Regions from separate parts of the Homo sapiens genome. Here region 2 is linked to region 1. Evidence: fine-mapped expression QTL. A gene starts in region 1. The other region holds a variant in brackets. All regions are shown on one strand. Distances are from middle to middle.

Region 1 (16,408 bases):
CCTATAATCCCAGCTACTCAGGAGGCTGAGGCAGGAGAATCACTTGAACCTGGGAGGCAGAGGTTGCAGTGAGCTGAGATCACGCCACTGCACTTCAGCCTGGGTGACAGAGCGAGACTCCATCTCAAAAGAAAAAAAAAAATTAGTTTGGCATTGTGGTGGGTGCCTGTAACCCAGCTATGAGGGAGGCTGAGGCACGAGAATCACTTGAACCCAAGAGGTGGAGGTTGCAGTGAGCTGAGATCGCGCCACTGCACTCCAGCCTGGGCGACAGAGCAAGATTCTGTCTCAAAAAAAAAAAAATGCTGAAAAATGTAAAACAAGTCCAACCACAATGCTCTTACTAAAAATATTATTATAAACAATATTAACATTTTATGTTTATAATATATTAAATACTATTAATCATGTTGCAAATATTACTAATGCTGGAAGTTTTAGTGAGAACAAAAAGTAATATATTAAACAGAATAAAATTAAAAATAGTTAAAAATATATAGATTCTGTAAGTCCTATACTGGGCAGAGGTGCTTACATTCTTTTACTGATATGAATATGCCTTCAAAAAATTTTTTTTAATTTTAAAAAAGGAATATACCATCAAAAAAGTTTGGAGGCCACTGGCTTAAACTACTACAGTGTTGTAATACAGAACAACACTGTGAACTGCCAATAGGGAACTACAGTGCATGGCATTTCTCAAACTCGTCTGGCCATGAGTCATTTGGAGGCATGAAAGTTCCAAGAAACCCTCTTTGGACCATGCTGTATGGTGGATAAGAGCATGAACCTGGAGTCAGACAAAGCTGACTTCAGCTAACTACCAGACTCATCTTATACTAGCTAGGCGACCTGAGCATTTTACTAAATCTTTTTGAACTTTTTTCCTTATCTGTGAAATGGGGATAGTGATATCTACCTCATATGGTTGTATGGACTTTAAAAACAATATTGTATATAAGTGCATAGTATAATGCCTGATGTCTTGTAAGCACCCCTTAAAAGGAAGTTTCTATCATTCTATCATCTCTGATAGTTATTTAGAGACCTGATGTATCTTTCATAACTACACTTCTTCAGAGCAGAAATTGAATCTTCTCTTATGAGTCCCATGGAACACTTAGCTGCAATAGGTATGTGAGAATGAAGAAATAAATGATATTAATAGAAGCAGAGTTCTCTGAAAGACTGAGAGACTAACTATACCACCAAAGACAGAAATGTTTCTTTCTCAGCTGTTTATAACTTACCATTTTAATGGCTACACCAGAACATTCACATAGGATGAATCCTCATAGTAATTTTCCTTACCTAGGCAGTTGATAACAATTAGTCTGTTACTAATTGTTTCCAGCTGCTCCCCTTTGATTAATCAATCAAAACAAATTTATAATGGTTCTCCTGTGGTTTGATACTGCTAGGAGCCTAGCATGCCTGTGATGAAGACAAGATGACTACGTGTGCTTAAAAGTCCGGGGAGTAGGCTAGGCACGATGGCTTACGCCTGTAATCCCAGCACTTTGGGAGGCTGAGGCGGGCAGATCACCTGAGGTCAGGAGTTCTAGACCAGCCTGGCCAACATGGTGAAACCCTGTCTCTACTACAAATACAAAAATTAGCCAGGCATGGTGGTGGCTGCATGTAATCTCAGCTACTCGAGAGGTTGAGGCAGGAGGACTGCTTGAACCTGGAAGGTGGAGGTTGCAGTGAGCCAAGATCATGCCACTGTACCGCAGCCTGGGCAACACAGCAAAACTCTGTCTCAAAAAAAAAAAAAAAAAAAAGTCAGGGGAATAAGGACTGGAGTGGCCAAAGCAAGTTCAGCATCAGAGGATTAGGTGGGCTTTAAAGGAGAGACAGTGACTCAGGCCTATAATCCCAGCACTTTGGGAGGCTGAGGTAGATGGATCACTTGAGGCCAGGAGTTTGAGACCAGCCTGGCCAATATGACAAAACTGCAACTCTACTAAAAATACACGGATTAGGTGGGCATGGTGGTACATGCCTGTAATCCCAGCTACTTGGGAGGCTGAGGCATGGGAATCACCTGAACCCAGGAGGCAGAGGCTGCAGTAAGCTGAGATCATGCCACTCCAGCTTGGGCAACAGAGCAAGACTCTGCCTTGAAAAAAAAAAAGAGAAACAAAAGAAAAGTTATTTCAGACCCAGGTAAAAAGAACAAAGGCATGATAGTGTCCATTTCTGGCTCTGATTTCCTTTTGTGCCCCTTCCTCTGGAATGTTCCTCTTACAAAGTTTTGTTATAGTAGTACTAATGATACTACTACCACTTATGACAATTACATAATTAGTTACTTAATAAATAATCCAAATAAGTCCTAGACATCACTTGGCCCAGTTTTGGAGTAGTATAACATTCAGAGGAAGAACCTAGCAACCAAAAATGAAGTTAATTCCTATGTATATTTTCCTAATTACAACCCACAGTAACACTTCTGAAAATCACCTCTCTTTCTATGCCTTTAGGTCTCCATTCAGCAGCTGCTTAAAGCCCCTCTTTCTTTACTTTTCTCAGTATCTGTGGGGGTCAGTTAGGGTTACATTCAGCTGCATGGAACTGAAACCTGGATGCACATACTTCACAAAACAGAGGTTTTATTTTTCTTTCTGTAACCAGAACTCTGGAGGTAGGCAGTTCAGGGCAGGTACAGCTGCTTGAAGAAGTATCAGGGACCCAAGCTTCCTTTAGCTTCCATCTTTTGCAAAATAGCTGCTTCACTTCTAGGCTTTGATCTACGTTCTCAGCAGGAAAAAGAATAAAGAGTAAATGACAAAAGATCTGTGCTGTTGCTGGCAGGTTGGGCATTTGGTGGCATCAGCAGCTGGATCAGCCTTGTTGAGTGGGAGCCCTGCTACTCTGTATTTGCATCCTTTTCTCTGATGTTCCCCCAGGGTATGCCACTTTTTAAAAATGTCGACTGTTGGCTGGGTGAGAGGGGTGCAGTTTTAGAAGCTTCCCCAGGTATGGCCTTGGCCTTCCCCACTATGACAGCTCTTGCTCCACAGGCCAAGGAACTATCATAGAGGTTCTGCCAACCACCAAGTATGCCCATGCTAAGTACCCATTCAGAGAGGACAAGGACTCATCACTATATACCCTTGCTGGGAATCCGGTCTTCCTCAGTCATTAGGTTCTGGAAATTGGCTCAGGTTGAGAAACAGGGCAAGGGATTATGACTATTGGGGCAGCTCCTCTCAGCTGCCTCCTTATCTGTCCTTGTGTTTTAAAAACTACATCTTGAGGCACACAGTATCCTACTAACTACCTTCATAGCTTCCTGTGGGTCAGGCTTCCTTGGATGCCATTCTATCTTGCCACTTCTAACAATGCCACTTAATCTTCTGCTAGTTATGCACTGCTACCTGGTCTCTAGCAGGCCCATTGCTATCAGGGACCCTAGCTCCTGAAACATCTTCCACTATAAGCCCTGGTCTACAGAGAAAAGTGACTATTGGACTTCTCAGTGATGCTTGTGTCCCTCTCAATAGCACATTCCTTATTGCTTGTGATAAACAGCAGAACACAGCTGACAGGATAGGATGTAAATAATATGTCATTCCCACTTCTGAGTCTTTTGCTCCCTTCTTCCATTGTTTGCCAGGACAGCTCTGGCCTTTCTATTTTGCTTAGTGTGGACCACTGCTTTCTCCAAGCTTTCTAGAGCCATCCTAGCAATCTGTTAGCTTTATCTCCTGGAGTCCTTGCCAGAATGTAAATACTGTAGTACAGGAATGTGCTTATATCAATATGCTCTGCTTTATTTAGCATTATTTTCTCCTCCCTCCCCAATTCAGCACACTGGGGACCCTTTACCCAGTTCTCCCACCTTCTGCAGATGTGTATATAAGTTGGGTAGGTTTTTTTTCAGAGGAGTCTCTCTCTGTCACCCAGGCTGGAGTGCAGTGGCCCGATCTCGGCTCACTGCAAGGCCCGCCTCCTGGGTTCACACCATTCTCCTGCCTCAGCCTCCAGAGTAGCTGGGACTACAGGCGCCCGCCATCACACCCGGCTAATTTTTTATTTTTTTATTTTTAGTAGAGACAGGGTTTCACCATGTTAGCCAGGATGGTCTCGATCTCCTGACCTTGTGATCCACCCACCTCGGTCTCCCAAAGTGTTGGGATTATAGGCATGAGCCACCGCACCCGGCCTAAGTTGGGTAGGTTTTTTAGCTCCTTCAGGATACAGTGCCTCTCCTCCCTTAGCAGGTCTAGCATTTTCTTAATGGGGTTATGTGTGACTTGACCTTAGTTATTGGTCTGTTAGACAGGTGGAAAAGTGCAGGTAGATCTGAGGAGAGCGTGTGTTGCCTTGCAAGGCAGATAATACTTCTTGATCTTCAAGCAAGGGGGTGGGGTGCTAGTTTCTTGAGGGAGGAGTGGGACACTTCTACAAACCCAGAGCACTCAAGGTGATGTGGGGTTTTAAGGTTCTCAAGTGCATTGACCCAGATGCCCCATCTAAAGTGTCAGGGTCCCACTTCTCAACTATGCCCCTGACCTTGGTATAGTACACTCACTAGGGCTGAAAACCTTTTTGGCGTTCTTCTGCTCTTATAATTAAATCCTGAGCTTCATCTTCCGCTTTTTCTGCCTTATGCAGCTCCTACTTCCTTTATATGCTGCTAAGGAGGCACACTGGCTTTCTTCCTTAGCCTTTAATTGGTGATTCATCATCCTCAACCTTTCATTGTCTTTCTCCAAAGCACAGGTTTACTCCATCAGTAGCCATCCAATTTCATTGTTCTTAAACTACTATTTGCCCTATATTGTTAAAATGCCTGATAGATTGCACCTACGAGTGCATTGTTCCACTGAGGTTACATCCCACCCATTCCAGCTCTTCACCATTGCTGAAAGTTTTAACATCGTACTGCTATGGCACGCCGGGGCCTGTCAGGGCTTCCCCTGTGGACCTTACTGCTAACTGGCCAGGGGAATGATTCAGCTCCACTGGATCAAACCACATTCATGGGACGTTTTTGTCCGTTTGTTTTGAGACAGGGTCTTGCTCTGTCACCCAGCCTGGAGTGCAGTGGTACAAACATGGCTCACTGCAGCCTCTACCTCCTGGGATCAAGCAATCCTCCAGCTTCAGCCTCCTGAGTAGCTGAGATGACAGCTGCTCACCGCCATGTCCAGCAAATTTTTTTATTTTTTGTAAAGATACGATTTTACCATGTTGGTCAGGCTGGTCTTGAACTCTTGGGCTCACGCGATCCACCTGCCTCAGCTCCTAAAGTGCTGGGATTACAGGTCTGAGCCATGGTGTCCGGCCACACTCATGGATTTAATTGCCCTTGGAATCAACACCGTGCAGGAAAGGAGTAGGATTGAGCAGAAAAAGTTGAACTAAATGTAGTTACAGCAAATGCCTCAGCTTCCGGATCCTAAGGGAGCTCTGGTGCCAGGAGAGCCCTTCAGAGCAGCCCCACCCTGAGCCCTGCATCTGCCAGTCAGTGCAGACGGACCTGGTGAGAGGCAGCTTTCTTCAGCTGAAGGCAACTCCTGGAAAGGGATTTAGCTGATAGGTGTTGACAAGTAATGCGCCCAGCAGCTGAGGAAATGAGCACCTTAGTCCTGAAGAGTGGTGTGCTCTTTGGTATGCTGGGATGGTTGGTTGTGCCAGTGGAGATGGGGGTGGTGGGCAGAATGAAGGGAATACTACTGTAAAAGCTTTTTATTTTTTATTTATATTTATTCATTTATTTATTTTTTAAGACAAGGTCTAACTCTGATGCCCGGGCTGGAGTGCTGGAATGCAATGACACCATCACAGCTCACTGTAGCCTTGACCTCCTGGGCTCAAGCGATCCTCCCACTTCAGCTTCCCAAGTAACTGGAACCACAGGCACATGCCACCATGCCCAGCTAATTAAAAAAAAAAATTTTGTAGAGATGAGGTTTCGCCATGTTGCCCAGGGTGGTCTGGAACTCCTGGGCTCAAGTGATCCACCCACCTTGGCCTCCCAAAGTGCTGGGATGACAGGCATGAGCCACGGCTCCCAGCTTGGAACAAAACTCTTCGAAGAAAAAATTGGCAGAGCTTGTTGCCTGACCAAAAAACAGAGGCTGAATGAGAGAGATGCATTTAAAACAATACGAAACACTAAGGGTTCCCTGAATACTGTTGGACAGTGCAAAATGGGGGAAGTTAGGATACAAATCTAATTCTGTTCTACTGTAAGGCTCATGCCTTTTCACTAGACTAGTGCTGGTCAAACTGGTGTTCCATGGGCTACATTCAGACAGCAGACGTATTTTGTTTGGCTACACAGCATTTAAAAAATGTAAATTGGCTGCCACTATGTAAAAATTGGAAGAGTTTATATGTAAGTTCAGATCTCTAGCTTCTCTTGAGTAACTAGAAGATCTAGCAACACTGGGTCAACATTCCTGCATGGCAGTAACTGGAGTTGAGTGACAGATACTCTTTAAATGGAGAGAGTATCTCTTATCTGGATAAATGGAGGTGGGTATATGCTTCTTAATTCACCACAGTCTCTATGCATTACCTTCTTTGGCATTTTTTTTTTGAGATGGAGTCACTCTGTCGCCCAGGCTGGATTGCAGCAGCACAATCTAGGCTCACTGAAACCTCAGCCTCCTGGGTTCAAGCAATTCTCCTGCCTCAGTCACCCTAGTAAGTAGTTGGGATTACAGCCATGTGCCACCATGCCCGGCTTTTTTTTTTTTTTTTTTTTTTTTTTAGTAGAGATGGAGTTTCACCACATTGGCCAGGCTGGTCTCAAACTCCTGACCTCAGGTGATCTGCCTGCCTCGGCCTCCCAAAGTGCTGGGATTACAGGCATGAGCCACAGCGTCCAGTCTTCTTTGGCACTTTTGTTTAGCATTCCTGCCATATGTACTATGTATGGTCTAACAAAGTACATAATACATAACAGGCATTTGGGTACTTTTATTTTTATTTATTTTTTAGAGACAGGGTCTTGCTCTGTTGCCTAGGCTGGAGTGCAGTGGCGAGATCACAGCTCACTGCAGCCTTGACCTCTCTAGCTCAAGTGATCCTCCCACCTCAGCCTCCCAAGTTGCTGGGACCACAGATGCACACCACTATGCCTAACTAATTTAAATAATTTTTTTTGGTAGAAGCTGGGATCTCACTATGTTGCCCAGGCTGGTCTGAACTTCTAGGCTCAAGCAATCCTCCCACCTCGGCCTCTAAAAGTGCTGGCATTATAGGTGTGAGCCACCACGACCGGCCCATTTGGACACTTAATACTGGTTCAGCAGAACTGAATGAATTTAATTGGAGAGGAAGTTGGGGTGAAGTCTAGGCCTCTGACTATAATGAGAGGTTTGGCACTGAGGGGAGGCAACAGAACAGGGAGTACAAATTAGGATGAATTAATGACATGCTGGCAGGAGCTTGAGTAAAGGAAGAAGAGCAGAGGGCCAGGGCCTGAAGTTTGGGTGTCTTACCACAGAGCTAAAGAAGAGTGGGCAATGGTAGACTAAACTAGAGAAGAAGAGGAGAGAAAGGCACAGAGGAACTTCAGCAACGGAATGCCAGGGAAGGCAAGGGAGCTGAGGGTTTGGGCAGTTGCATCCAGTGTAGGGAAGAAGATCAGGGAGATAGACAGGCAAAAAGCCATGGCAACAAGGAAGTAGTTAGGGACTTTCAGAGGAAGTATGAGAAAAGGAGAGGAAGGTCATAGGTCTGAAGTTTAGCAGTGCAGTAGGGGGCACTGGAATACTATCTTGGGGGTATGAGTGAGTGCTTTTTCAGGGGTCCTACTTGGGAGAAACATAGATAGACATTCATTTAATATTCATCCATTTCTTTCCAGCATAGTCATCATTCTGACATCATCTAAAAGAAATTAGTATCTGCATTGCATCCTTAAAGAAGAAGGGACAAAAGACATGTCCAAACTGTCTGTCTGTTCTAGTGGAATAAAACATTAATTTAATATGTATTTTGGACAACCACCAACCTAGAGATTGGAAACTTTTCTCAAGGATATATCTCTCTGTATGTGGGCTACTGGCTTTGTGGCTTTTCTGTAGGAAAATTAAAATTCTAGTTTTGTTCTCCCTTATCACCCAGTGTCTGTGTGGCTTAACTGGCTGATTAGCGCGTGCTTGGAATGTGTAAATTCATTTTAACATTGGCCTAGGGGCCTGTGTGGTAGCTCACCCCTGTCATCCCAGCACTTTGGGAGGCCAAGGCAGGGGGATCACTTGAGGCCAGGAGTTCCAGACCAGCCTGGGCAACATAGCAAGACTGTGTCTCTACCAAAAAAAAAAAAAAAAAAAAAATTAGCCAAAGCAGGGTGACACTCACCTGTAGTCCCAGCTATTCAGGAGCTTGAGGTGGGAGGATCACTTCGGCCCAGGAGTCTGAGGCTGGAGTGAGCTATGATTGAGCCACTGCACTCCACTGCACAGAGTCAGACCTTGTCTCTGAAAAACAAAAACATTTGCCTAGGTAAAATGTATCGAGGAAGACAAATTTTAAAATTACTCATTCCAGGCCAGGTGCGGTGGCTCACACCTGTAATCCCAGTACTTTGGGAGGCTGAGGTGGGCGGATCATGAGGTCAGGAGTTCAAGACCAGCCTGGCCAATATGGTGAAACACCGTCTCTACTAAAAATACAAAAATTAGCCGGCTGTGGTGGCGCATGCCTGTAGTCCCAGCTACTCGGGAGGCTGAGGCAGAAGAATCACTTCAACCGGGAGGCGGAGGTTGCAGTGAGCCGAGATCGCGCCTCTGCACTCCAGCCTGGGTGACAGGGTGAGACTCTGTCTTAAAAAAAAAAAAAAAAAATTAGTCATTCCAAAGTCCAATGTCAGACATAGATTATCCGTTGTTTTGGATGTAATCCTCTTCCTGGAAAACTGGCACAACCCAATTACACATGAAATCCTTTCAACTCTGGTATTGGAGGTATAGGGAAGGACTTTGTTTTAGGAGACCCATAGTCTACCTCTATTGTTCTAGGAGTTAAACCACGTTGGTTTACATCCTGACTTTGCCACCTGTCAACTCAGACCTTGGGCAAATCAAAGGTCTGAGGGAGGAGTGCAGGCTCCCAGCGTTCCCACGGGGGTGGGGACGTGACGTATTCATCAGTTCATGAAGTTAATGATATGTATTGAAAAGGTTTGTTCAAGGATTTAAATAAGACGATGAATATATTGAATTAATAATGAATGCAAGGCCTTAAAGGTGTTTTGAGGGTGGTGAAACTTGAATCTCTCATCAACTGTGCAATAGTTATATTAACTTGGATGGCTATGAGTTTTGCAGAGGAAAGCTGGGCTTAAATCCCAATGCTAGACCTGGTGGCTAGACCTTGATTGCCACCGGGTCTAGCATTGGGATTTAAGCGACCTCTAAAAAAAAAAAATCACGGAATCTCTCTTTGGCCTTCCTTTTTTGTTTCTCAGCAGTCTACCAAGCTACGAAGAACCTGAAAATCGGAGGTCGTGTACCTTATTTTTTCTGAGAGCTTAAGCTGAGAGCACAGCCTCCCCAGGAGATTAGCGGCAGAGATCCGCGCGCTGGGAGAAAGGCTAGCCCCAGGGCGCCCTAACTTCCAACTCCGGGAGCAATCCAAACCCGGAGGCCGGCGGGGGAGGGGACAGCTGTAGGGGGCGGTGGGGATGGGAGTGGATGCTCCCGGGTCAGCTCTGGCACTCGCCAGCTGAGCCCAGCGCCAGTCTAGGTGAGCCCCACGGCGGTGAGGGACGCTCGCCAGACGGCCCAGAGGAGTTAGATGACGTCACCTCCAGGAGGACTCGCTTTTTCATTAATGAAACCGGCCGGCGCGGGCGCATGCGCGGCAGGCCGCCTTCCCTCTCGCTTCCCCCTCCCCTTTCCCAGCCGCGCTCTCAATCTCTAGCTCGCTCGCGCTCCCTCTCCCCGGGCCGTGGAAAGGATCCCACTTCCGGTGGGGTGTCATGGCGGCGTCTCGGACTGTGATGGCTGTGGGGAGACGGCGCTAGTGGGGAGAGCGACCAAGAGGCCCCCTCCCCTCCCCGGGTCCCCTTCCCCTATCCCCCTCCCCCCAGCCTCCTTGCCAACGCCCCCTTTCCCTCTCCCCCTCCCGCTCGGCGCTGACCCCCCATCCCCACCCCCGTGGGAACACTGGGAGCCTGCACTCCACAGACCCTCTCCTTGCCTCTTCCCTCACCTCAGCCTCCGCTCCCCGCCCTCTTCCCGGCCCAGGGCGCCGGCCCACCCTTCCCTCCGCCGCCCCCCGGCCGCGGGGAGGACATGGCCGCGCACAGGCCGGTGGAATGGGTCCAGGCCGTGGTCAGCCGCTTCGACGAGCAGGTAACCGGCCCGTGGCGGGCGGGAGGTGGGAGCGGAGTGGGGGTGGGGACAGAGTAGGTGAGGGGAGGTAGGAGCGGCCGCCTCCCCCGCGGCTGCCTCAGGCTCTGGAGGAAAGGAAGGGAAGGGAAGAGAAGGGAAGGGGGGATAAGTGGGGGTGGCCAAGGCGGGAGGTGAGGGGTAGGAGGGGACAGCTGGGAGCTTGGGCACCCTTTCCCTCCTAAGTCGGGGGGTGGGGCCTTGTCCCTGACCAGCCTCCGACCCTCCATCCCCTTTATCCCAGCCCTTCCGCTTGGAAATGGGGATGAGTGACCTGGGGGCGCCTTTAGGGGCGCGCCATCTGGATTTAATAATTACCCCCTTACTTTTGTTTTTGAGCAGAGGTGGGTAACGTTTAGGGGTTCTCTCTTCCTCTTCCCTCCGTGACCCTCCTAACTGGGGACGAGCGAACCCTAAGGCCTGTCTTATATACCCTCAATAGGAGAACGATAACATTCCGCCCCTCCCCCAGTTTCTTCAGCTTCCTCTCCTGGAGGGGGAAGAGCAGAAGAAAGCAAGGAAGGCACAGGTTTTCTTACTTTCTGCTCCATCGTCTCATCCTGCCCCGAGAGCTTCAAGTGCACACTCACTGCACATCTTTGTGATGCCCTACAACGTCGTCCCCCATATCCTGATGACACAGACTGCCTTTTTTTTTTATTGCCGTTTGCAGTGGAAACCGTGGTTCTGAAATATCTTCCCCTTCCTTGATAATTGCAGTCTCTTCCCCCCCCCCTTTTTTTTTTGCCAGCGGTCTGAGGATGTGATGCATTCTCGAGTGAGAATGTTGGGGAGTAAAGGGGAGAAGGGTGAAAGGAAAGTGAGAAACTGCTTCAGAGCCACCGACAACAGAGCAAAGCCAGCTGGGATGTGGTCCTGGAGCGGATCATTCTGCTAGTGTTTGTGGTTGTTTTTGACTCTCTCCTGGTTGACAAGAGAACTTTCATTGAGAATATTTGGGATGAAAAAAAAGTTTTGTAGCTTGAGGAGGTGACTTTTTATCGCCTGAGTTTCACACAATAAATCCTGGGGCTGATTAGAATAAATGCACACATAGCCTTTTGTCAGTGGAAATTGGTTTAACTTTGTGTTGCTGTAGGTAGTTGGGGATGGTTTAAGGGATGCTTTCTGCAGCTGTGGGTGCAGTGGGCTTCCTGTGATGGGGGAATTGTTTAAGATTGAGTCAACCTATTTTGTTTACTGGATATAATGGTAAAACATTATGGGAGCTGAAGGGGTGGGGGAAGAGCTCTTCTGTTATTTGATGCATAAACATTTCTTTACGGGACTCAGCGTTTCAGACCTACCTGGAAAATATCTTGGAATAGACAGAGGAAGTTGAGAAGAAGCTATGTAGATAAAATAGAGTTATGAAGCTGTCAGAGACTTGAAGGAATTGTTTTATCCATTCGTATGCTTCCAGACCCAAAGGCATCTAAACTAAACTACTAATCCATCTGAAGTATAATGTTACTGCATATAAAAGATTACATTATTGATAGAGCGTTAGATTTAAAACTTGGTAGAAAAGACTCTGTAATTTTAAGAAAGGATTTAAAAGGCACATAGAAGACTTCCAAAGCTGAACCTTGTGGACAGCAGAATCTGGATGTAGGAAATTGAAGGATCCACGCCGCAATTCTCCTTAAATTTTAAAAATTAAAAATTTTTTTCAGTTTTTTCTTAATTTTATTTTTTTACTTCTTACCTGTTCATCTCTAGGCTTATTTGCCATATTGGAAAAAGATACTTAAGAGAGGAATGATTTTGGGCTGGGCGCGGTGGCTCACGCCTGTAATCCCAGCACTTTGGGATGCCAAGGCAGGTGGATCACCTGAGGTCAGGAGTTTGAGACCAGCCTGACCAACATGGAGAAACCTCGTCTCTACTAAAAATACAAAAATTAGCTGGGCATGGTGGCGGGCGCCTGTAATCCCAGCTACTCGGGAGGCTGAGGCAGGAGAATTGCTTGAATCCGGGAGGTGGAGGTTGCAGTGAGCTGAGATCACACCACTGCACTCTAGCCTGGGCGACAGAGCGAGACTCTTGTCTCCAAAAAAAAAAAAAAAAAAAAAGGAGGAATGATTTTGATTATATACCCAGTAAAGCAAGAAAGTGTTTCTCCTTCTGTCCCTAGCTTTAAAAGACCTTAAGGCTTCGTTGTTTGTTATGCATATTGTGGAATCAAACTCACCACCATCTGTTAAAAATTAAGGACATTAGTTTTTAAAACAGCATTTTTCTGCATTCCTTATGTTGTAATTAAGAGAAAGATATATAGGAGAGATTATTCCTCACTTTTTTTTTTTGAGACAAGGTCTTGCTCTGTCGCCCACGCTGGAGTGCAGTAGCTTGATGTCGGTTCATTGCAACCCCTGCTTCCCACATTCACGTGATTCTCCTGCTTCAGTCTCCCAAGTAGCTGGGATTACAGGTGTGCACCATCGTGCCTGGCTAATTTTTGTATTTTTAGTAGAGACGGGGGTTTCACCATGTTGGTCAGGCTGGTCTTGAACTCCTGACCTCAGGTGATCTGCCCCCCACCCCCTGCTCGGCCTCCCGAAGTGCTGGGATTACAGGCATGAGCCACTGTGCCTGGCCTATTCCTCACATTTTTCTCTTAGAAAGTTAAAGTCTCTGACCTTGAGATACAAAAATGTAAGGGTTTTCAGTGTTTAACATAAGGTACTTATATATATTATATATAGTATATATATAAAATAAATTAATATATTAATTTATTATATAAGTGATAAATGTTTAATTCAAATTAGAGTTCACCTTACGGTTGAAAATGTCTTTTAGTCAGAAAACTGAGGCATGGGAAGGTTAAGTGACATAGATCTAATAAGAGCTTCAGTATGAAAAGTAGTGAATGCTTGACCATCAGGGAGATACTTTTCCTAAGTATCCCATAAAATTTGTTCTAATCCATTAAATATATTTAGAAGACTTTATTTTATTTTTTTTATTTTTGAGACGGAGTTTCATGATTCTTGCCTAGGCTGGAGTGCAATGATGCGACCTTGGCTTACTGCAACCTCTGCCTCCTGGGTTCAAGTGATTCTCCTGCCTCAGCCTCCCAAGTGGCTGGGATTACAGGCGCCTGCCACCACTCCTGGATAACATTTGTTATTTTTAGTAGAGTGCTGAGATTACAGGCGTGAGCCATCGCTTACATTTTTATTGAGGGGAGAAAAAGCCCTGCATGTACTGAGAGATAGTTGTATAAGAATCTTAAGAGTTGGCCGGGCGCGGCGGCTCACGCCTGTGATCCCAGCACTTTGGGAGGCCGAGGCGGGCCGATCATGAGGTCAGGAGATCGAGACCATCCTGGCTAACACAGTGAAACCCCATCTCTACTAAAAATACAAAAATTAGCTGGGTGTGGTGGTGGGTGCCTGTAGTCCCAGCTACTTGGGAGGCTGAGGCAGGAGAATGGCCTGAACCTGGGAGGTGGAGCTTGCGGTGAGCCGAGATTGCGCCACTGCACTCCAGCCTGGGTGACAGAGCGAGACTCCATCTCAGAAAAAAAAAAAAAAAAAAAGAATCTTAATAGTTTCAACTGTTTATAAAACTTTTGAATTTTGGATTATATTATCTGTACTTTGCTTTACTGGGCCCAGGGGGAGTTAAGCTTTCCTTCTTATTACAGCTAAGAGTTTGCCTGTTGGACCACTTAACGCCCCCAGGGAGCATGTGCATGTCTAAAGATGGCAACTCTGTTTATGATTGCTGTTTTGGTTGGATTTCTAATATTCGGTGTGATTAAAGCAGAAATGCATTTCTAGCCACTGCTGATTACAGACATATTGCACTCTGATGGGTATCGCTTAGCAACTTAGTGCAGTAGACTCAGTTAAAAGAAGTGGATGTGTGCCATATTGACATTTTGAGCTCACATTCTTGTGGGTAATATAAAATTCCTTAACCTGATAATATTGCAGCTAAACCTAGTATTTAGGGTCTAAGTTGAATGAGTATTACCAATTTTAGAAGTAATCACCTCCTTGGTTAGGGAAATGACAGTTGCACAGGTGGACAGCCAGAAAGCTGAATGTTATCAGTTAAATCTTACATCTCTCCTTAACCTGCCTTCGTGGTGCCAAATAGCAAGTTTCTAATTGAAACTGACAAATTGTAGGTGTGTAGCTTTTTTTTTTTTTTTTTTGAGACAGAGTTTCGCTCTTGTCTCCTAGGCTGGAGTGCAATGGGGAGATCTCAGCATACTGCAACCTCTGCCTCCTGGGTTCAAGCCATTCTCCTGCCTCAGCCTCCCAAGTAGCTGGGATTACAGGCGCCCACCACCACGCCTGCCTAATTTTTGTATTTTTAGTAGAGACGGGGGTTTCACCGTGTTGGCCAGGCTGGTCTCCAACTCCTGGCTTCAGGTGATCCACCTGCCTTGGCCTCCCAAAGTGCTGGGATTACAGGCGTGAGCCACCACGCCCGGCCATGTGTAGCTTTTAATTGTGGTTCATTAACCCAGTTTCTAAGCAAATTAGAACCTTCTGTGTATCTCCCCTAGTTCTGTATGCCCCACTGGTTCCTGTAGAGCTTTATTTCTGAAGGGAAGTATGGGAAAACTATGGATATTTGAACTAAAAAAAAAAAAAAAAGAATTAAAAAGAACTCCATCCCAAAATGATTTGTTGTAAATATGTTCATTTAAAGCAATTATATTTTCCATATCTGATCAAGCAAAAGTAGTACATAAAAGCCAAAAAACCCAATTTAAAGAATATGTTATGGAATAAACTCTGATTTTAGAGGTTGTAGTAGCATATTTGTTGTTCTCATACATTGAGTGTTCATCTGAATGTACGTTGAATATGCGGTGAGTGATTCACAGTATAAAATGATTGGCAAGTATCTTCGAAATTACAAACCACATACTGATTAGACAAATAGATTTGCAAAACTGAAGCTTTTTGGATTTAAAAAATATCTCCTAGCCTCATTCTTCAAGCCTGGTGTGTAATTTTTATAAGGCCTTATAGTAGTTGAAAATGAGTACTCTTTTATGGTGACGAATTCTTTATGGTGAGTGAGAAATAATGCTTATTCTTCCAATTTTAGTATATGTGGTGCTGAATCGAGCACAATAATGCTTATTCTTTGCTTCGGAATTTTTTAATTTATTATTATTGTTATTTTAAATTTTTATTTATTTATTTATTTTGAGATGGAGTCTCACTCTGTCGCCCAGGCTGGAGTGCAGTGGCGCGATCTCAGCTCACTGCAACGTCTGCCTCCTGGGTTCAAGCGATTCTCCTGCCTCAGCCTCCCAAGTAGCTGGGACTACAGGCGCATGCCACCACGCCCAGCTAATTTTGTATTTTTAGTAGAGACAGGGTTTCACCGTGCTAGCCAGGATGGGTCTGAATTTCTTGATGTCGTGATCCACCTGCCTTGACTTCCCAAAGTGCTGGGATTACAGGCATGAGCCACCGTGCCCGGCCCGGAATTCATCCTTTAGAAAGATTTCTTCCAGCTGTTCCTCAGTTCTCTGCACTCCCTTACACTTTCCACCTTATCTGTCTGGGAACTAATTTAGTCTTTATGTTGGCTGCTTTCTTTTCACTTTTCAGGCTAAGATTTCCTTTCTCTTGGAAATCAGACGTTTACTTGGTCCTGCAGCTCTCTCTCTGTGGACCAGTCTTTTTTGTTGTTGTTGTTGCCAGATACTCACCGCCTCTACTGTTTATCCACCCATTTCCTTTATAACTCTGAAAAGTAGCTCCTGCCTCTGCTTGATTGCTGTTTTCTTGAAAGTGATTACTTCTGGCAAAACATAGTGGTCATTGCTTAGTTGTAATGCCACTGTGATGTTCCACTCCCCCCGGAAACCAATCTCTTCCAGTTCCCAAGACACAATACTTTTCTACTGAATTGGAGTTCCTTAGCGGGGGTCTTAGTTTTGTTCTGCTATTCAGTGCCTTTGTCCCTATCCTAGCCATTAGCTTTCCTATAGATCCTTGATTTCCTCATCTGTTGAAAAAGAAATGGCTAGAAAATCTTTTAGATTCTTTCAAGTTTAAATATTC
Region 2 (16,408 bases), 350 kb after region 1:
GTGCCCGCCACCATGCCCAGCTAATTTTTTTTTGTATTTTTAGTAGAGATGGGGTTTCACCATGTTAGCCAGGATGGTCTCGATCTCCTGACCTCATGATCCACCCGCCTCGGCCTCCCAATGCTTTGGATTTTAAGCTTCTCGTGGGTGAACTCCTTTCTGCCCTCCATGGAGGTCTGGCCCCGGCTTGGTTGGCCAGAGCCTAGTGAGATGGCGGTAGCTGTGGACACAGTGGCAGCCTTGTTCATTATGCTCGCTGGGGCTGCTTGGTTGACCTGGACTCCATTCCCTACCATGGGCTTCTGCGTGTTGGCAGGGAGAGGAAGGGGGCACAATCCGAAGACCAGCCTGACGGGGCAGACGGCTTCTGGATTGTGAATGAGTCCTCTTCCTGGCTTAGGCTCCTGTAATAGCAAGGTCAAGACCACAGCTCTGCAGATGAGGTGTCAGAGTGGGCTGGACTGGGCAGGTCCGAATTTCTCAGGCCCGGCTCTCTGCGCCCTGCTGTGTCTTAGCTGTCCCCTAGGGGTCAGTCTGAGACTGAGAAGAAGCGGGTGCCTGGATCACTACGTAGGCTTCCCAGATGCCCCCAGGGAACGCAAACCTGAGGCATGATTTGAGGAGGTGTGGGGATGACACACAGATGGGATGGCAGGCGCTCCATCCCTGTGCCATGCGTGTATGTTGGGAGGTGAAGCTTGTTTTTCGGGCACAGCCCCCTCCCCTCAGGGTGTGGACGGAGACCTCTGACTTAACCACTGGATGTGGCTCGTAATTAAAGCAGTGAATGCTTGAGTGCTGGCTGGTGGGCCAGCAGCTGCCACCTGGCCCCTGAGAGCACCCTGCCCTTCTTGACCCCCTCCCAGGCCCCGAGAAGCCTCTAGCGTTGGGCATCAAGCAGGGGCCCCTGGGGTTGCTGTCCAGACCTCAGGCCAGTGCAAGTCTATCCCGGGCAGTTGATGCCTGGATGCACCAGTTCCTGACCTTACTGGATGTGGCTCCACCTGCGTCCCCAGAGCCCTGCGAGACCCTGGCAGAGGGAAACTTTGAGGCTTGGGAACCCCAACTGTTGAGCAGGCTGTTGAGAGAGTTTCCTGACCCAGGGAAATTTGCTTCTGGTCAAAGGGAATGTTAGGTGTGTCCTGAAGGACTCCCCAGGTTCCCTGGGTCCATGCATGGGGTCCCTGGAATCGCCCTGGGAGTCCCTCTGAGACTGTCCTGCTCAGGCTGCCCATCAGCCCCCAGTCCATATGCTATAGGGGCCCCCGTGGGGAGGGGGCATGGAGACACGTGGAGAGCCCGACACTCGGGTGCTAAAGGCAATGGGATAGTTGCTAGGGGCCCGTGGTCACCCCTCAGCAGGCAGTAATGTGAACCCTAATCCTACAAGTGCTGTAAGGCCCTGGGCCCTGTTCATCCACCCTATGGTGGATGAAATGGAGAGGGCATCCAGCCACCTGCCCCTCCTGTGTAGCCACCACGCCAGCAAATGGTGTCAGTAGCCTCCAACCCAGAGAGTCATCCTCAGCGCCTCCTCATGCAGCTGCCTTGAGTCCTCTGTTCCCCACTCACCCCTGCCTCCCCCTTCCATCACAGCCACTGCCACCCACTGACCGGGCGTCCTCCTGTCCTCAGCCTTCCTCTCTCCACACCCCCATCCCGCTCCTGGGACCCGTCCTTACCAAGGGATGAAAACCAACATCAGCTCCTACCCACTACTCTAGCCTCATCTCTCACCATGGTGCATCTCACACCTAAAACTGGCGATACCAAACCGCTCCCCGTTTCCTGAGAAAGCCATGTTCTCTCTTGCCTCTGAGTGTTATCTTTCTCCTAGGATGTCCTCCCTCCCGCTTCCTTGTCAGGAGCTAACGTCTACTCACCTTTTTAAGACTTACTTGCCGGGAGTGGTGGCTCATGCCTGTAATCCCAGCACTTTGGGAGGCTGAGGTGGGAGGATTACTTGAGCCCAGGAGTTTGAGACCAGCCTGGACAATATAGTGAGACTGCTTCTCTTAAAAAAAAAATTTTTACTTAGGTACCGCCTCCTCCAGGAAGCCTCCCTGACTCCTTCTGCCCCAGCCCAAAGGAGAAGGACCTGCACTGAGCTTCCTGGGGGCCCTTCACCCTCTACCACTGCCTGAACCTCACCCTTCATGACAGCCAGCCCCATGTCCACCCAGTGGCTTCAGGGCTCAGGCTGAGCTCCTCCTTTTCACCCCCAGGACAGCACCCACAGCAAGCATCGTTATCCATGCTCCTTGGGTGTGTCTCTAAGTATTTCTAGAACTAGGTATCTGGAAGCAGAATTGCTGTGTCAAAGGGTATGTAGATTTTGTTTTTTAACAGATACGGATGAAATTTTCTTCCACAAAGCCTGTACCATTTGTATCACCCAAGCACTATATGAGATTGCCCCTTTCCCCATGGCCTTCGCCAACCCCGGAAGCCATCCATCCACCTGCTGGTCTCCGGCCTAGCAGCCTGAGGGGAGGAAAGCCCATTGCTGCCGTCCTCTGTGCTGCCCAGCTTCCTAGGGAGGCGGACCATCTTTTTCTTATCTTCCCATACCCTCTGGATTTCTGCTTTTACGAATTAGCTATTCATATTCTTTGCCCATTTTCGATATGGTTGTTTGTCTTTTCCTTATTGATTTATAAGAAATCTCTGTATATTCTGTTTTTTGCTTGTTTGTTTTTTGAGGCAGTCTCGCTCTACTGCCCAGGCTGGAGTGCAGTGGCTCAATCTCAGCTCACTGCAACCTCTGCCTCCCGGGCTCAAGCGATCCACCTGCCTCGGCCCCGCAATTAGCTGGTACCACAGGCACACGCCACCACATCCAGCTAATTTTTGTTTTTTTGTTTGTTTGTTTGTTTGTTTTGTTTTTGGTAGAGACAGGGTTTTGCATGTTGCTCAGGCTGGTCTTGAACTCCTGTGCTCAGGTGATCTGCCCACCTCGGCCTCCCAAAGTGCTGAGATTACAGGTGTGAGCCACAGCAACAGGTTGAAATCTCTATATATCCTGATTATCAATCTTTATGGATTTTGCTTGTGTTTTAATCTTGTTTTAGGAGTGTTTTATTACACAGAATGTTAATTCTGATGTCATCATTTATCAACCTTTTTATGCCATTTGCATTTTGTGTATCATTTTGTGCCTTCTGTACCTCCAGGCTATAAACATATTCTCCTATATATAGTTTTCAGATACTTTTGAGAAAAAGAAGTATTTATGCTTAGCTCTTTTATCCACCTGGAGCTTATTTTTGCTTTTGGTGGGAGTAGAGATCTGGCACTCTTACTTCCTCAATATGGCCAGTACTTTGAGTTCCTAATGTTGAATAGTCCCTCTTTCTCAATTGATTTGAAATTTTATCTTTATTGTATGCTAACTTACCTTATATACGTAGGTCTCTTTCTGGACTCTGGTCTGTTATATTGATCTGTTTGTCTACCTACTTTTAAGCCAAAACCATAGTTTCAGTTACTCTTGTTTATAGTTTGATATCTGATAGGGAAAGGCTCTCTCATCCTTCTTTGTTTCTTTAACCTTTAAGGCCAGGTGCGGTGGCTCATGCCTGTAATCCCAGCACTTTGGGAGGCCAAGGCAGGTGGATCACCCGAGGTCAGGAGTTCAAGACCAGCCTGACCAACATGGTGAAACCCCATCTCTACTAAAAATACAAAAATTAACCAGGCATGGTGGCACATGTCTGTAATCCCAGCTACTTGGGAGGCTGAGGCAGGAGAATCACTTGAACCCGGGAGGCGGAGGTTGCAGTGAGCTGAGATCACGCCATTGCGCTTAAGCCTTGGCGACAAAGTGAGACTCTGTCATACACACACACACAAAAACAAATAAAAAAAACTGTTTTTTTGTTATTCTTACATATTTTCTTTTCTGGAACAGCCTTTTTGTCAAGCTCTATTGCAAATCCTGTAGGAGATCATATTTGAAATTAAATTTGTGCATTAATTGAAGGAAATTGGCTTCTTTACAATATTGCATTCTGTCATCCAGGAATGCATATATCTTTTCATTTATTCTGGCCTTTTATGCCCTCTAGGAAAGTTTTCTGTTGTTTTTCTTTTTTGGTTTTTTGGGTTTTTTGAGATGGAGTTTTGCTGTTATTGCCCAGGCTGGAGTGCAGTGGCTGGATCTCTGCTCACTGCAACCTCTGCCTCCCAGGTCCAAGCGATTCCCCTGCCTCAGCCTCCCTAGTAGGTGGGACTACAGGTGCCCACCACCATGCCCGGCTAATTTTTTGTATTTTCAGTAGAGATGGGGTTCTACTACGTTGGCCAGGCTGGTCTCAAACTCCTGACCTCAGGTGATCCTCCTGCTTCGGCCTCCCAAAGTGCTGGGATTACAGGTGTGAGCCACCGCATCTGGCCGGAAAGTTTTATAATTTTCTTAAATAGGTTATGCACACTTTCTTCTTAGGGTGACTATATTTGGAGTTTTTGTGCTGATATGTGTAGGATCTTTTTGCTATGATATTTTATAACTGGTTACAACTGATGTATAGGATAGGTTTTCATTTTTGGTGTTAATCTTGTCATGATAACCCTATTAAACTCTCCTTATTTTATTTATTTATTTATTTATTTATTGAAACAGGGTCTTGCTCTTATTGCCCAGGCTGGAGTGCAGCAGTGTGATCTCGGCTCACTGCAATCTCTGCCTCCCGGGTTCAAGCAATTCTCCTGCCTCAGCCTCTCGAGTAGCTGAGATTACAGGCGCCCACGACCATGCCTGGCTAATTTTTGTATTTTTAGTAGAGACGGGGTTTCACTATGTTGGCCAGGCTGGCCTCGAACTCCTGACCTCAGGTGATCTGCCTGCTTTGGCTTCCCAAGGTGCTAGGATTAGAGGTGTGAGCCACCATGCCTGGCCCATTAAACTCTCTTTATATTTAATAGTTTATTTATATGCTATTTTCTATCATGCTTAATTCTATATAACAAGGTAGCCATGCTGCCATTTTAAATTTTAAATGGCAACATGATATTTCATCACATGAAGACAACCAAATTTATATACCAGTTTCTTATTGTTGGGCGTATATACACTTTTTTTTTTTTTGAGACGGAGTCTCACTCTGTCGCCCAGGCTGGAGTGCAGTGGTGCAATCTCGGCTCACCGCAAGCTCCGCCTCCTGGGTTCACGCCATTCTCCTGCCTCAGCCTCCCAAGTAGCTGGGACTACAGGTGCCCGCCACCACGCCTGGCTAATTTTTTTGTATTTTTAGTAGAGACAGGGTTTCACTCTGTTAGCCAGGATGGTCTCGATCTCCTGACCTCGTGATCCACCTGCCTCGGCCTCCCAAAGTGCTGGGATTACAGGCGTGAGCCACCATGCCCAGCCAGGTGTATATATATATTTTTAACGTAATTTGGGGAATGAACAAAAGCAGTGTAATAATCATTCTTATAGCTAAGTATTTCCCCACAGCAGCAATCGTTGCTTTAAAGTAAATCAGAGGTTGGCAAATTACAGACCCCACGAGCCAAATCTAGGAGCTTGTTATTGTAAATAAAGTTTTACTGGAACACAGCCACACCCATTTGTTCACATCTTATCTGTGGCTGTTTTCACACTACAGTGGCAGAGCTGAAAAGCTGCCACAGAGGCCAAATGGACTGCAAAGCTTAGAATATTTACTGTCTGCCCTTTACAGAAAAAATTTGCCAACCCAGACGGTAAATTCAGGCAAGTGGAAACTGTTTTATGAAAAGGATGCAAAGGCTGGGCGCGGTGGCTCATGCCTGTAATCCCAGCACTTTGGGAAGTGGAGGCAGGTGGATCACCTGAGGTCAGGAGTTTGAGACCAGCCTGACCAACGTGGTGAAACCCCGTCTCTACTAAAAATACAAAAATTAGCCAGGCGTGATAGCGCATGCCTGTAATCCCAGCCTCTCGGGAGGCTGAGGCAGGAGAATCCCTTGAACCCAAGAGGCGGAGGTTGCAGTGAGCTGAGATCGTGCCATTGCACTCCAGCCTGGGCAACAGAGTGAGACTCTGTCTCAAAAAAAAAAAAAAAGAAAAGGATGCAAAATATTAAAACTGCCTAATACTAATCTGCCAAATTCCTCTGCAGGAATCCCATCAGGATTGCGTCAGATTCCTGCTACCCTTTTGATACTGGTGTTGCTGAGTTTTCAGATCCTTTAAATTTGAGAGGCTAAAATTAGAACCCCTCTTTTGAATTATAATACAGTTTAACTTCTTAAAGTACATTTTTTGGTCACTAAGAGGGCGTTCTTCATGAATTGCCTGTCGACATTCTCCACCCTGGCTATGTTTACTTCTATTGAGTATTTTTTAAGAACCAGAAATATAACTTTTTGACATACATTAAATTTTTTCCAGCTTGTTATTTATTTTTAACTTTGTTCATGATACCAAATTTAAAAATTTTTATAGCCAATTCATCATTCTTTTCCTTTATGGCTTCAGCCTTTGGTGTAATGCTTATAAATGCTTTCCCGCCCAAGATTGTGAAACTGTTCTGTTTTATTTTTGTGTATTTGATTTTTAATTCGTAGAATTGACTGATGTCTAGAGTGAGGTAGGGATCCAGTTTGCCTTTTTCCTGTCAGTTCCTCTTGCCCTCCCTCACCTGGCTGGAACCAGCAGCTTCTTGCTAGGCTATGCTTACGCACGCAGTCCCCTGATGGCAAAGGAAGTGAGGTTTGCCCGGTGCAGTGGCTCAGGCCTGGAATCCCAGCACTTTGAGAGGCCGAGGTGGGCAGATCACTTGAGGCCAGGAGTTCAAGACCAGCTTGGCCAACATGGCGAAACCCCATCTTTACTGAAAAAAAAAGAAAAAAATTAGCCTGGCATGATGGGGCATGCCTGTAATCCCAGCTACTTGGGAGGCTGAGGCACAAGAATCACTTGAACCCAGAAGGCAGAGGTTGCAGCCAGCAGAGATTGTGCCACTGCACTCCAGGCTGGGCAACAGAGCAAGACCCTATCTAAAAAAGAAAAGAAGAAAAGAAATGGGGTTTGCTGGGAACCCAGACCTGAGCCTGAGCCCAAATTGGCTCTTTTGCTCATATTCAGAAGGGGCTTTGCCAAACCCTTGTCTTCCTGGAAGTTTTTAAAATGATGATAACCTGTGCCTCTCTCTAGAACTTGCTGGGGAGGAGGCCTACAGCCTGAACATCTAAGCCCACCCTCGCTTCATTTCATCCATCCTGAAACAAGCATTTCTAAAACCACTCATGACAATGGCACTTATAAGTTCTAAAAATACTTTTCCTGACAAACAGCACTGTGATTCACTGTGCTGGTGGAGGTGTGGGTGGGGTGCCATGCTCCCACTGGTGTGGTGGCAGGAGGGAGTTTCAGAGCCCAGGGAAGCAGCCTTTCTACTTATATCTGGCCCCAATATATTTTTCTATGTTTCAACACCCCCC[C/CA]CACCCTTCTAAAGAGAAAAAAAAATCTACTTATCCCAAGCCTCAGAGCTTCTGTAAGATCCTCGATTTGTGTCTTTGGGAAATAACTCAACTCTGATTAAGCCAAAGGTGGCGGGGATGGAAGCAGTGCAGATATGGAAGCCCCTTTTGTTCGTTGCCTCAGCCTGGTCTGCCCTGGACCGTGTGTCTTCTACCTCCTACCCCTGACCATCCCTACCCTAGAGACGCTAAGCTGAGCTGGCCAGCAAGTGCTACTTCCCACGGGCCACCTCCTGCCTAACCCAACCCTGACGCCCAAGTCCACATGTATCTTTAGAACCTACTCACCAAGTTAGAGCTTGACAAAACCTTGGAGAGGCTCCTTACATCCCGTCTTTTTAAAGCTGAGCAGGAGGGAAAAATTTGGGTTTTATGAACCTGTAGGACATTAACCACCTTCGTATATACCTTTCCAGTCTCATTTCAGCATCCTTTCTTTCCCTGATTACATAGACTTTGATCCCTCCCCTTCTCCTTTGGATGAGTTATCCCTACCTGCTGCTTCCCTCATTAATGAGTCTAGTGCAGTGCATTTTTGAAACAGTAACTGTGGGAAACACACAAACACAATCACATGAGGGCAGATGTTCTCCGAGAAAGCACGGTCGAAACCAGTGGGGACTCTGGGTTAGCAGGGCCTATGGTGCTTCATGTGTCAGAGGCTGAACTGGGATATCAGTGGAGATTCTAAACTCACCATCCAGTTTATAAACCTCTGAGGGCCCAAGCTCCTGCTGCAGATGGTGCAAGAATAAAGAGTAGATCACTTTTACTAAACAAAGACCTAGAGAGTTGACTTGGTCTCCAACTTTTTATTTTGAAAATTTTCAACCTTCAGAAAAGAGCAGAACAATGAATCCACATATATCCTTTGCTTGGATGACAGCTGTTAACATGCTGCTAAACTGAGTTTCTCTGCCCCTGTGTTTGTTGGTGGGGTGCATGTGCATACATACTACTTTTTTTCTGGACCATTTGAAAGTTAGTTGCGGACATGACACTTCATCCTTAAATACTTGGCCATTCCTAAGAAGGACACTCTCCTATGTGACCACAATATAGTTATGACTTGCAGGAAACTTAACATTGGCACAATTTGTTACCTATTGTAAAATCTACATTCAAATTTTCCCAATTTTATATATATATATATATATATATATATATATATATATATATATATATTTTTTTTTTTTTTTTTTTTTTTTTGACACGGAGTCTTGCTCTGTCACCCAGGCTGGAGTGCAATGGCGTGATCTCCGCTCACCGCAACCTCCGCCTCCTGGGTTCAAACGATTCTCCTGCCTCAGCCTCCCGAGTAGCTGGGATTACAGGTGCATGCCACCACTCCCGGCTAATTTTTTTTTTGTATTTTTAGTAGAGACTGGGTTTTACCATGTTGGCCAGGCTGGTCTTGAACTCCTGACCTCGTGATCCACCCACCTCGGCCTCCCAAAGTGCTGGGATTACAGGTGTGAGCCACCGCACCCAGCCATCCCAATAATATTTTTATAGCTTTTATTTTTATCTCAAATCTAATACAGGATCACACAGTAGTTTAGTTGCCATGTTTCTTTAGTTTCCTTTAATCTAGAAGAGTTCCTTGGCTTTTTTTTTCTTTTCTTTCTTTCTATTTTTTTCTTTTTTTTTACTCCTAATGACATTGACCTTTTTAAAAACTTCAGGCCACTTGCTTCGAAGAATGCCCCTCAATTTAGATTTGCCTTTATTGATTTTCTGGTCCTTTGGGGTACTGCAACTTAAATTTAAATTAAAAATAAAATGGTGTGGCGAGGAGGGGGCCAGGAGGGGAGTTCTACTGTGTTTATTTTTCAAGTCTAAAACACATTTAAAATGCATATTGTTGGCACCCACTCAGTGGGCCTCAGTTTTCCCAGCTGAAACATGATCTAAACACCCCTTGCAGCTTCTGTCCCTTCTGGCATTTGGGGAAAAATAAATGCCTAATTGTGTGTGTGCGGCCGAGCGTCCACCCTTGGCATCTCTCAAATTGTGGGGAGGCAGCCGGCCTTGGTACTTTCTGGCTCCAGGAACACGCCATGGGCCATTGAACGTCTGTGCGATGGGTAACGTCTGTGCGATGAACACTGTACACTGGGTACAGTGTTAGGAGGTGTGGGCTCTTATACATGACCAGGCCACATCTCCATCCTCTTTGGGCTGAGATTAGGACATTGGAGTAGGTGTATTTGTCTCCTGAGAGGGGCAATCTCAAGAGAAAACTAGAAAAGACCCCCCCCACGTCTTTGGGGGGATTATCTGAGATAATGTGGGGAAGAAATCCAAGCCCCTAAGATACACTGGACGGTGCTTCTCCGGGTACCTGTGCCCGAGGGAGATACCAGCCACTTGCTGGGACACCAGGGGGCATCTTCCTGGAGCAGCAGATTGCCTGGAAGAATTGGAGAAAACATTGTCCAACATTAAAACAAACATGGAACATAATAAACATATTTTGAAGATAAGAAAGAAGCCTGTAATCCCAGCACTTTGAGAGGCCCAGGCTGGAGGATCCCTTGAGGCTAGGAGTTCAAGACCAGCTTGGACAGCAAAGTGAGACCCCCATATCTATTAATACAAAAAAGACAGGCGGGTGCCGTGGCTCTCGCCTGTAATCCCAGTACTTTGGGAGGCCAAGGCGGGCGGATCACGAGGTCAGGAGATCGAGACCATCCTGGCTAACACGGTGAAACCCCGTCTCCACTAAAAATACAAAAAATTAGCCGGGCGTGGTGGTGGGCGCCTGTAGTCCCAGCTACTCGGGAGGCTGAGGCAGGAGAATGGCGTGAACCCGGGAGGTGGAGCTTGCAATGAGCCGAGATTGTGCCACTGCACTCCAACCTGGGCCACAGAGCGTGAGACTCCGTCTCAAACAAAACAAAACAAAACAAGACAAAAATTAGCTGGGCTTGGTGGCAAGCACCTGTGTGTCCCAGCTACTTGGGAGGCTGAGGCAGGAGGATTGCTTAAGCCCAGGAGATTGAGGCTACAGTGAGCCGTTTGTGCGACAGCACTCCAGCCTGGGCAACAGAGCAAGATCTCATCTCAAAAAATAAAGTAAAATAAAGATAATGAGAAAGACTTTTATCAATTTTATTTTACTTTATTTTATTTATTTATTTTTTTGAGATGGAGTTTCACTCATTGCCCAGGCTGGAGTGCAATAGTACGATCTTGGCTCACTGCAACCTCCGCCTCCCGGGTTCAAGCGATTCTCCTGTGTCAGCCTCCCAAGTAGCTGGGATTACACACGCGCACCCCCATGCCCAGCAAATTTTTGTATTTTTAATAGAGACGGGGTTTCACCATGTTGGCCAGGCTGGTCTCGAACTCCTGACCTCAGGTGATCTGCCCACCTCCACCTCCCAAATTGCTGGGATTACAGGCACAAGCCACCGCGCCCAACTGCTGTATTTTATTTTTGAGACAGGATCTCACTCTAGCACCCGGGTTGGAGTGCAGTGGCGCGATCTCAGCTCACTGCAACCTCCACCTCCCAGGCTCAAGCAATCCTCCTGCCTCAGCCTCTTGAGTAGCTGGGACTACAGGCATGCACCCAGCTAATTTTTGGATTTTTGGAGAGACAGGGTCTCACTATGTTACCCTGGTTGGTCTTGAGCTCCCGGGCTGAAGCGATCCACCTGTCTCGGCCTCCCAAAATGCTAGGATTACAGGTGTAAGCCACCGCGCCCTGCGGGAAAGACTTTTTAAATTGTTTTGCTTTAGAGGCTGCTCTTTCGAGTCCCACTTCTACTGTAGACCCATGTCCATCTTCTGCTGTGGGGCCGCTTTATGTAAGGTATTACTGTTATTGCTATTTTGTTTTCCTTTTCTTTTTTTTAAGAAACAAAGTCTTGCTCTGTTACTCAGGCTGGAGTGCAGTCACTGCAGCCTCAACCTCCCAGGCTCAAGCAATCCTCCCACCTCAGCCTCCTCAGTAGCTGGGACCACAGGCTCATACCACCACATCCAGCTAATTTTTTTTTTTTTTTTTTTGGCAGAGACCGGGTCTAGCTATGTTGCCCAGGATGGTCTCAAACTCCTGGCCTCAAGCAAGTCTCCCAGCTGGGCCTCCCAAGGCACTGGGATTACAGTCATGAGCAACCTCTCCTAGCCCTGTTTTCTTGTAATAAAGTAAATGCAGTGTTCATTTTAGTAACAAAACAGGTCTTCACTGGGAGGGAGAAATGAGGAAATTTGACCCCGCGTGGCTGAGGCCTGGAATGAGCTCCATGGGCAGGCTCCAGGAATGATGTAATTTTGCCTCCTCTCAAGGCTGGCCTCAAGGAGGCCTGATTCCAGCCCTCTTTGTCTGGGGCTGCCCTGAACCTGTAAGAATCCTTCTGACCAGATCCTCCAGACACTGCAAATTCTCACCCAGGTTGCTCAGAATCCTGGAAAGAGCTCAGGTTTGAGTCAAACGGGCTGAGTGTGGGTTCTGCTTGACCACTTTCTGTGTGTCATTTGGCAAGTCGCTTCACCTCTCTGAGCCTTTTTCATTTCTGCCTATCTAAAATCAGAGTCGTCAGCCTGATTTTCAGTGTTGTGGTGAGAATGCAATGGATTAATGTTTCTAAAGGTTCCTGAGGAGACAGGTCCCCCAGTCAGTAGTACCTATGCCTGCATTCTCTGTACCACTCAGAACCCTCAGGGGAATCATTCAGGACACAGGGGACAGAATTCCCTCCCCTTCCCATTCCCAAAGTCACCAGCCTGCCTCCACCTGCACCCACACTTTCAGCTTGCTGCTGGGATGGTGAGTGGCATGACCCTGCTCTGACACAGGCCATGCCCTCCAATCCCAGCTCCTCACCCGCACACCGCCTGAACACTGGATCCCAGCCCCTCCTGCCAACTCAAGCACTCGCCTTCACAAACAGCCCCTCACCCACAGCACCCGCACCACGCCCCTGCTGGGTCCTTTCCATTCGCTTCTGGAGCTGACATAATAATGCCCTTCCCATGGGCAGGGAAGCACCCGCTTGACCACACATCCTGGCTTTCTTTCCTTTGGTCTATTTCCTCCAAAGACTGGTCTCAACTCCCTTTCTTGCCTCCCTTTCTCTCTGTTGCCACTCCCAATGATGTCTTGGCCCCTCTGTTCTGCTGAAACACTTCTCACAGTCACCAGGGACTTCTTTTTGAGACAGGGGTCTCACTCTGTCACCCAGGCTGGAGTGCAGTGGTGCAGTCCTGACTCACTGCAGCCTCCAACACCTGGGTTCAAGCAATCCTCCCACCTCAGTCTCCCAGGTAGCTGGGACCACAGGCATCTGCCATCATCCCCAGCTATTTTTATTTTTTGTAGAGATGGGGGTCTTGTTCTGTTCCCCAGGCTGGAGTGCAGTAGTGCAGTCCTAGTTTGCTGCAGCCTCAAACTCCTGGCCTCAAGCAATCCTCCAATCTCAGACCCCCAAAGTGCTGGTATGGCAGGCATGAGCCACCTTGCCTGGCCACCAGGAACTTCTCACTGGCCAAATCCAAGCATCAGTTCTCTAGTCACATTTTTACATAGTGATGGTGTGTGGTGAATAGATCAGGGTAATTAGCATATCCACCATCTCCGGCATTTATCATTTCTTCATTTTGGGAACACTCGATAGTCTCCTAGCTACTGAAAACTCTGTATTATTGTTAATGATAGTCATCTTACAGTGATGTAGAACAATGGAACTTATCCCTCCTCTAGAACTGTAACTCTGTACTTTTAACAAACGTCTCCCTACTCTCCTTCCCCTGCCATTCTCAGCCTCTAGTGTCCTCTGCTCCATTCACATTTTACTGGAACCCTGGGCAGGGCCTGGCACAGCCAACCTCTCCCTTCTCAGATCGTCCTTTTAGCTCAAGCCTTCCTCCTACCTCTCAGGCTGCTTTTCTCCCCGCACACCACCCCCCCGCCACCGGCTTTATTATTATTATTATTATTATTATTATTATTATTATTATTGAGACAGAGTCTCCCTCTGTCACCCAGGTTGGAGTGCAGTGGCGTGATCTCAGCTCACTGCAACCTCCGCCTCCGGGGTTCAAGCGATTCTCCTGCCTCAGCCTCCCAAGTAGCTGGGATTATAGGACGGCGCCATCACACCCGGCTAATTTGCATATTTTTGGTAGAGATGGGGTTTCACCATGTTGCCCAGGCTGGTCTCGATCTCCTGGCCTCAAGTGATCTGTCCACCTCAGCCTTGCCCGCCCTCCTCCTGGGTCCCTTTAAATGGCGCTGGGTCTCAGGCCTCGTCCTCACCCCTATGCTTCCTGCCTGCCCACTCCCCAGGGGAGCTGGTTGGTCCCAGAACTCTAAAAGCACCATTACCCTGAGGGCTCCCAAGATAGTATTTTCCCCTCCGACATTGCCTTCGGCTCCAGTCTCTTCTGTCAAACCTGTGGCGCACCCTCTGCATTTCCACCATGTTCCAGGCTACACCCTTTGATCTGATCCAGCTCCGTCCCCTCAGCCCCAAGAATGTTTCCCCAGGCTCCCCATCTCAGTAAATGGCACCACCTCCCCTACCTGGTCACTCTGACCAAGGATCAAGTCATCCTTAATTTCTTTCCTCCTTCCACATCCAACCCATCATCACAGCCTAATGGTTTTACCTCCAAACTATGTCCCGAGCCATCCACTTCCCTCCACCTTGGAGGTTACACCCCAGTCCCAGCAGAGCCGCACCCTGTACCTGTGCCCCGATGGCCTGCATTCTCTCTTGTTTTTTGTGGTCCATATGACACCGGAGTGTTCTTTAAAACTTGTAACTCCTAGTGGCTGGGCATGGTGGCTCACACCTATAATCCCAGCACTTTTGGAGGCTGAGGCAGGTGGATCACCTGAGGTCAGGAGTTCGAGACCAGCTTGGCCAACATGGTGAAACCCCGTCTCTACTAAGAATACAAAAATTAGCTGGCCATGGTGGCAGGCGCCTGTAATCCCAGCTACTCAGGAGGCTGAGGCAGAAGAATCACTTAAACCCGGGAGGCGGAGGTTGCAGTGAGCCGAGATGGCGCCACTACACTCCAGCCTGGGCAACAGAGCGAGACTCCATCTCAAAAAAAAAAAAAAAAAAAAAAATTGTAAGTCCCATCCTCCTCTCCCTTGCATAAGAGCCTCCAGTGACAAAATCCAAAACCCTGACTTCCCACTGTGGCCTCGAAGGTTTCACTTTTGCCTGAATCTTTGACCTTGCCCCTCCCAGATTCCCGGTGACTCTCACTGTTCAGCCACCCTGACCTGTTTTCTGTTCCTCAAACTGCCCAAGCGAGTTCTGCACAGGGCCTTTGCCTGGCTTCCCCTTCACCTAGAACCCTTGTCCCCCAAATCTTTGCACAGCTGCCCTTGTGCCCTTCAGGTTTCAGCACAAATGTCACCTCCTCAGAGAAGCCTTCCCCCACCACCCTCTCAAGAAACTCCCTCCCCACCCTGCCCCCATCACTGCCAGAGCACCCTGCTTATTTCCTTGAGTATGCACCACTGTTAGCTGCATGTTTTTTTAATGGCTGTGTAATAGTGATACATGTTTTTGGGATACATGTGATATTTCGATAACTGCATATGTTGTGTAATGATCAAATCAGGGTAACTGGGATATCCATTACCTCAAACCTTTGTCTTTGTGTTGGGAACATTACAATTCTTCTAGCTTTTTGAAAGATACAAGAAATTATTAACTATAATTTCCCTGCTGTACTAGCAAATACTAGAACTTATTTCTTCTCTCCAACTGTATCTTGTTTGGCACAGTCTTGATCATCTATGTGTGTCCTGTCATCCCCCACTGGCCTGTAAGCTCCGTGGGTCCAGGGCTTTGCCAGTGTCATTCACTGCTGCACAGTGCCTGGCATAGAGAGGCTGTTGGTGCAGATTTGTTGCACAAGCAGATGGATGAATCTCAGATGTGGAATGTTGACTCTTTGTCAGGGAGGGATGGGCTCCCACCTAGGAGTCTCCGAGGACCAGCTCAAAGGCTGTAAAAATCATGCCCTGCCTCAGTGCTCTGGGGGATTAGAAAGGGGGTGCCTGGATTCTCTGAGACTCTGCAGCTGGGCTCTCTCGCTTTCCTGTGCGTGTCAATCACTGATCTTAAGAAAATGCAGATTCTGGTTCACAGGCCTGGGTCTGCGTTCCTAGCCTGCTCATCAGCAATGGTGGTGCTGCTGACCTCAGATCTCTCTAGCAGCGCTTTTGTAACTTGCAGGTCCTGTGCCATCTTTCCCCCTACATGCCATGGGACCACGCGGAAAGAGCCAGAGGGGTCCCTTCATTGCCTCCTCTGCCCCTCCTCCCTCCATCCAGCAGCAAGTGTTATTTGTAGCAGTCACTGTCACCTCCGCATGTGGTGAGGCCTGCTAGGTTTCTGTCTCCACATTTCTGTTACTGTGACAGACAAGACGGATTCTCTGCCAGGAACTGTGCTCAGCCACTTGCTTCTGGCATTGCTGTTTCCTCTCTGTGCACCTCTTATTCAGGCAGACTCCTGGGGGATGTTGCCCCTGCTGGAAGTCAGGCCCAGTTCATTGCCCTAGTGTGGGATGGGGCAGCTGACCCCGCGGGGAACTGGGAGGCATTACCGAGAGGTTTCCAAGCTTTGGTTTCAGGAGTACAGGTATAGGCCTACCTGACTGGCCCTGGGGGCAAAATGTTCATTTAAACTTGGGGAGAGGCTGGGCACGGTGGCTCACGCCTGTAATTCCAACACTTTGGGAGGCCAAGGTGGATGGATTGCTTGAGCCCAGGAGTTGGAGACCAGCCTAAGCAACATAGAGAGACCCCATATCTACAAAAAAATTAAAAAGTAGCCAGGCATGGTGGCGTGTGCCTGTAGTCCCAGCTACTCAGGAGGCTGAGGTGGGAGGATCACTTGAGCCTAGGAGGTTGAGGCTGCAGTGAGCTATTATATTATCACACGACTGCACTCCAGCCTGTACCATA

The links.
Region 2: its variant is fine-mapped to the expression of NF1 in whole blood (TOPMed, PIP above 0.99).

The regions. Positions count from the first base shown.
Region 1 is chr17:31,085,045-31,101,452 of GRCh38, forward strand. NF1 (neurofibromin 1) reads left to right here and starts at 9,933. Exons shown (of 58, transcript NM_001042492.3): 1 at 9,933-10,325. The coding sequence starts at 10,266. It overlaps MIR4733HG (MIR4733 host gene), which reads right to left and starts at 10,446. Exons shown (of 4, transcript NR_186435.1): 1 at 10,183-10,446; 2 at 8,329-8,447; 3 at 5,981-6,074; 4 at 5,698-5,891. It overlaps MIR4733 (microRNA 4733), which reads right to left and starts at 9,381; the gene lies at 9,306-9,381. LOC124903974 (a long non-coding RNA gene) reads left to right here and starts at 6,591. Exons shown (of 2, transcript XR_007065704.1): 1 at 6,591-6,663; 2 at 7,832-8,083. RefSeq lists a promoter at 9,513-9,938, cis regulatory regions at 9,546-9,785, 10,012-10,322, an enhancer at 9,926-9,943 and silencers at 10,178-10,247, 10,288-10,337.
Region 2 is chr17:31,436,931-31,453,338 of GRCh38, forward strand. All of the region lies in intron 3 of RAB11FIP4 (RAB11 family interacting protein 4), which reads left to right. Among named protein-coding and RNA genes, the nearest start is that of RAB11FIP4, 53 kb to the left of the region's middle. RefSeq lists an enhancer at 605-714. The variant C/CA (reference allele first, on the strand shown) is at 7,426.